Linked DNA regions of Homo sapiens: region 2 is linked to region 1. Evidence: fine-mapped QTL for protein levels in blood plasma. Region 1 holds a variant in brackets. A gene starts in the other region. All regions are shown on their forward strands. Region 1 holds the start of LOC105372997 (a long non-coding RNA gene). Region 2 holds the start of CETN2 (centrin 2).

Evidence for each region. A credible set is the group of variants that fine-mapping cannot tell apart. PIP is the chance, under the fine-mapping model, that this variant and not a neighbour inherited with it causes the effect. Protein levels are from antibody-based Olink assays in UK Biobank. Linkage for the fine-mapping came from a reference panel and not from the study's own genotypes, which makes the PIPs less certain.
Region 2: it holds the start of CETN2, and the variant in region 1 is the best candidate, but not a certain one, in a credible set for the plasma level of the CETN2 protein (UK Biobank, PIP 0.75).

What each region holds. Positions count from the first base shown.
Region 1 is chr22:31,301,808-31,304,826 of GRCh38, forward strand. LOC105372997 (a long non-coding RNA gene) reads right to left here and starts at 979. Exons shown (of 4, transcript XR_001755493.3): 1 at 1-979. The variant C/T (reference allele first, on the strand shown) is at 1,315.
Region 2 is chrX:152,829,481-152,831,980 of GRCh38, forward strand. It overlaps CETN2 (centrin 2), which reads right to left and starts at 1,277. Exons shown (of 5, transcript NM_004344.3): 1 at 1,228-1,277; 2 at 122-280. The coding sequence starts at 1,230. It overlaps NSDHL (NAD(P) dependent 3-beta-hydroxysteroid dehydrogenase NSDHL), which reads left to right and starts at 1,583. Exons shown (of 8, transcript NM_015922.3): 1 at 1,583-1,637. RefSeq lists a silencer at 1,177-1,516.

The sequences.
Region 1 (3,019 bases):
CATATATATTCCTCATACAGATTGAGAGCTTCTGCTATTATTCCATTACAGTCAGCAAAATGGAGAGAGAAAGGAAAAAGAATCTCAGACAAGATCATAGAGTGATTGTGGCTGGAAGGAAGTCCAAGGACAACAGAAATCAACATTTTATTACAATGAGGCCCAATTATATGATCTGATTGCTGCCCTTCTCACCCTCTGTGAAGCCCAGTTAACAGAAATGAGCAGTGCTGTGGGAGGTGTCATAAGTGGACTCAAATTGGCCCCAGAATGGCAAACTCTGAGTTCAATAATAGATTAAGTACCAGCTTCAAACACTCAGTGTGTTCTCTGAGTTCCCAAAGATATTTCTACCTGGAGCTTTCTTCTACACTTACCTTAATGGCTCAGTTGGAAGTCAGCCATCACTGCTAAGTGTTCTTAGTTCTATGCAGCATTGGCAGGAGCTTCCCTATTATCCTGATGTTAGTAATAGAAAGTCTGCCCAGTTGTAGCCAGGCTGTTCCCCCTAAAGCAATAGTGGAGCATTTCCACTTTCTAGGATCTTGTCCTTTCCAACACTGAGTGGACTAACCTCTTGTCACTTTCACCAGTCATTAGATTTATGAGAAAATCTCCCCATTCCTAGAGTGGATCTGCTATCAGGCAGCAATCTGCTTTTTGCTCTGAATTTCTGATCTCTTGGATACAGTAGGAGAATCTGCTCCGATGAACATTAAATTAATATATGTAAAGCATTTAGAAGAATGCCTCACACATATTAAGAGTTTCTGCTATTATCATTAATACTATCGTTGTTATTGCCACCATCTAGGATCAGAAGCTAGAGCTTAGCTGAACATCTAATTCTTGCTCTTGTTATTCTGAGTGGTTTAGCAAATCCAATTTATCTGGAAATGGGGCTGAATATGTTTGGTTTCCGCTCAATTTTGTGGCCATTGCCACTTCAAAGAGTTTTCAAAAGGTCAAAATGTTATCATTTTAGTGTTTTTACTTCTTAGGGCTTCAACATCCCCTCTCTGGATTCTTAAGAGACTCTGATCCTGAATCAGTGAAATGGATAATCGAGCAATCTCTGCATGAAAGATGTACATTTTATCCAGTCATCCAGTGTTTAACAAACACCAGCTCAATGTGGGACAGTAATAAATGTCATCGCTAACATTTATTGAGCACCTAGTATGTGCCAGATACTGTTCTAAGTGCTTTATATATACTATCTCATTTATTCTTCATAAAAACCCTATATATAGGCACTGTTATTATCTTCCTTTTACAAATGAAGAAACAATCATAAAGAGGTTAAGTAATTTG[C/T]GTAAAGCCACAAAGATAAGTGAAAGAGCTGGGATATGTACCCAGGCAGTCATATCTCATAGCTTTTGCTAGTTACCACCTCACTGTACTGACAGGGAGAACCCTGGATTTAAGAGGCAGAAGTTCGGCTGGGCGCGGTCGCTCACGCCTGTAATCCCAGCACTTTGGGAGGCCGAGGTGGGCAGATCACGAGGTCAGGAGATTGAGACCATCCTGGCTAACACGGTGAAACCCCGTCTCTACTAAAAGTAGAAAAAATTAGCCGGGCGTGGTGGCAGGCGCCTGTAGTCCCAGCTACTTGGGAGGCTGAGGCAGGAGAATGGCGTGAACCTGGGAGGCAGAGCTTGCAGTGAGCTGAGATCACACCACTGCACTCCAGCCTGTCTCAAAAAAAAAAAAAAAAAAAAAAGAGGCAGAAGTCCAATCTGGTCTCAACTCCTCCATTCCATCATTTAACAAGTTGAATGACCTTAGGTATACCTTTCTTGAAACTCAAGTTTCTTTATCTGTAAAATGGATAGGGTAATACGTACTTCACAGGATGGTTGTGAAGACTGTTATGTGCCCTGGACTTCTTAGGCATTCAGTAAATGTTAGCTTCTCTCACTACCCGATTCTAAGCACTACACTGGTGCTCAAGATTGACTAAGAAAGTTGTACCTCCGGCCGGGCGCAGTGGCTCATGGCCGTAATCCCAACACTTTGGGAGGCTGAGACGGGCGGATCACGAGGACAAGAGATCGAGACCATCCCGGTCAACATGGTGAAATCCCGTCTCTACTAAAAATACAAAAATTAGCTGGGCATGGTGATGTGCGCCTGAAATCCCAGCTACTGGGGAGGCTGAGGTAGGAGAATCACTTGAACCCGGGAGGCAGAGGTTGCAGTGAGCCGAGATCGTGCCATTGCACTCCAGCCTGGCGACAGAGCAAGACTCTGTCTCAAAAAAAAAAAAAAACAGAAAAAGTTCTACCTCCTTGTGGTCCCAGTCTGGGATGAAGAGGGAAGAAGAGGACAAATATGGGACCAGGTCATTATGGTATAGTATAAGAAATACCACTTTAGAGGAATATACAGAGAGAAGAATACAGAAAGTTACATTTTCTGAGATGGGGCAAGGAGGAGTTGAAGTTTCAGGGTACCAGTGACATTTGTGTTGGGCATTGAAAAACAGGCTTGGATGGGATGGACAGAAGGCACAAAAGTTTCTGAGCAGAAGAAACAGCATGTGTGCAGGCGCTAAAGTATGGCAGAGCTCAGAGTATGTGTTCTAGTAATGGCTAGAGGTTTGGTATGCAGTTGGGTATTGGAGGTGAGATGGTAACTGAGTAGTAACAAATGAGTTTGCAAAGAGAGGCATTCAAGGCTTCAGATGTCAGTTATGTCCCAGCACCACGAAGACAGTAAAACATAGACATCTTTTAAAAGAAAATTTACCGAAAGTAAATAAATTTAGCAACAAAAACTTTATAAATGCTCTTTTCTATTGAGATACAATTCACATATCATGAAATTCATCATTTTACAGCATACAGTTCAGTAGTTGTTAGTACCTGTGCGTCACTTAACAACAAGGATAGGTTCTGAGAAATGCGTCATGCAAACATCATAGAGTATAATTACACAAACCTAGACGGGACAGCCTACTACATATCTAGGCTATATGGTGTAACCTACTGATCTCAGGCTACAAACCTGTACAGCA
Region 2 (2,500 bases), not on the chromosome of region 1:
AACCTCCCCTGTTACTTACTGCAGGGAGAAGAGGGCAAAAGGGGTAGAGAGGTGATAGGGAGATGACAAGGAAGAGGCAGAGGAAAGGAAGGGCAGTACGGCAGGAATGCACAGAGCTTGCCTTCAGTTCTTTAACATCTATGGTGCCAGTTCCATCCGCATCGAAAAGATCAAAAGCTTCCCGGATCTCCTGCTTTTGCTCTTCAGTAAGCTCAGGCTTAGGGCTCATTCTTTTTCGCTGAGAACTTGATGCCATGTTTGCCTTCTTAAAGTTGGAGGCCTTTATATGTTATGCAATACACAAGCACAATAATATATCATACAGTCCATATTTACATAACATAGTTACAGACACCCATATGTATTTTTAAAGTCATTTATATAACCAATTCCAAAGCTTTGCTTAAAAAGAAAGATAACAGGGTTTACTGGCAAGAACAATGAATCTTTCCATGAACTTCTACCCCTCCCTTTTCTTTACTGTTGTTTCTAGAAGCAGGGAGATCACTTGTTCAGTAAGGACACCTCTTACTGAAAATCATCCCAAAAGAGAGCCAGTCAAGAAGATGACTGTGAATAACTAGAGATAATCAGCTCTTCCCGAACGTGGGGATCCTGGTTCTGAAAACAGTCTTACGATGCCCACTCCCAGTACTCCCCTTCCCAGTAAGTACTCCGACTTCCCAATTACTTCTAGATTTGGCCAAATATTAGTAAGTTGTTAAGATGTATATTGTGTCAGTACCGAGTAATAAAACTCAATCCATCTGGCACCTTCGTGCCTTCTCCAAGAAGCTAAAGCATCCCCTGAATGCCCCTGTATTTAAATTGTAAAAAACATTGTAACAGAACACGATACACCTTTTCCCAGCTGTGTGTGGAAATTTTGGCAGAATGAGGAGGCCAGGGGGCCAAGGTCTGAGAGAGTCAGGGGCCTGTGAGGGATTCGAGTCTTTTTTGCCCAGGGAGGTTCACCGAGGGGATCAGGGAATGCAAGGGGAGCCCGAGGGGCGGGTGTGGGCCTGTTGTGGGTGAAGAGGAGGCAGCAGCGAAGCGCAGGCCCAGTAGGTTGGTTAGCGTCTGTACCCTACTCTCCCGGGAAAGAGCTCAAAGGAAAGACTGGTGCGCTAAAGCCGAGAAAGGCGCAGGAGAGGCGGCGTGGCCGAGCTGGGGCCTGGGAAGGGCTCAGCCGCTGGGCGTGGGGCGCGACAGAGCGGCAGCACTCACCATAGCCAAAGGAGTCCGCTGCCGGTTGTTAGGCAACCGACGTGTACACTGACTCGGCGCCGTTCCCACCGCCCCGCGCGCGCAGCCCCGCTCCCCATTGGCCGTCCGCTCGTCGCCGCCTCTCCCTATTGGTGCAGGGCCGAAGAGGGTGGGACTAACCTGGCAAAGCCCCGGCCCAGCGCGGGGAGGGGCACGCTGGCGACAGAGCCCCGTCTTTATTGGGCAAGATCACGCCGTGAGCGCCAATTGGCTGAGTCGTCGCCGAGCTGGGCCAATCCTCTTGGTGGAGGAAGCTCGGCTGATTCTCGGCTCACGCGGGAGGGGAGTAAAGGGTGGCGGTCCGGGCCTGGAGTTCAGTGGGTGCAGCCTGCTTGCGAGCTGAGGCCAGACAGGGGGGCGCCTACGGACGGGTAAGAGTCGTGGCCTTGCCATTGGAGGTCACCCTGTGTCAGCGACTGGGCAGTGCGGGAGGGTGGGGAGCTACGGGGTCGCCCGGGTCGGGTGCTTTCTGGGTTGACCTAAGGCTGAGTTTAGGGACCGAGTGCATCAGAGCAGCCAGAAACGATTACCTTGCGTGTTGGAGCAGGGACTGTACTCACGGGGCAACTGAGACCCGGAGAGGGGAAGGGGTGTGCTGAGTGTTGTCGCAGAGGTCGGACGGCTGGGACCTAGGAACTGAATCCAGCCGAGGCTCGCTCTTTGAGGGTGGCCCTTCGAGAGCACCCCTAGACTGACCCAGATGTATAGGCCCCAGACCAGGTTCCAAGAGAGGATCACTTTAGATCTTACCTGGCTAAAAGCAGCCCAGGACGGTGAACTGGGGCCTTTGGGAACGGACTTTGAAAGGAGTGAGGGGGATGTGAGCGAGCATGAGGGGCGGGGAGAGGTCATCAAAATATACTCTTTTTGACACCCACACAATGCAGATAAGGAGGAGCATTCCAGGCCGAGACGCCCTCATCAGCAGAGTCACAGGAGTTTTGGAAGTGAGAGGTATGCTTGGAGAATTAAAAGGGAGCGTGTGCAAGGGCTGTGGACTGACATAGACCTGCAGAAGTGGAGCTGGAGGTCCAGTTTGCCCTCTTTAGCTATCCCCGTGGCTTTTAGCCTTCACCTGTTTTTCCTCCAGGCATAGGGGCAGTAATCTAGGGAGACAGAGGGCAGAGAGTAAGTTTCTCAGACAGAGAAAGGCCCGAGGCTTATTAGAACCTTTTAAATGGAGCTGCTGCCCTTTGCCCTCTTCTCTCTTCAGCAGTGAACAGATTCCTGACTT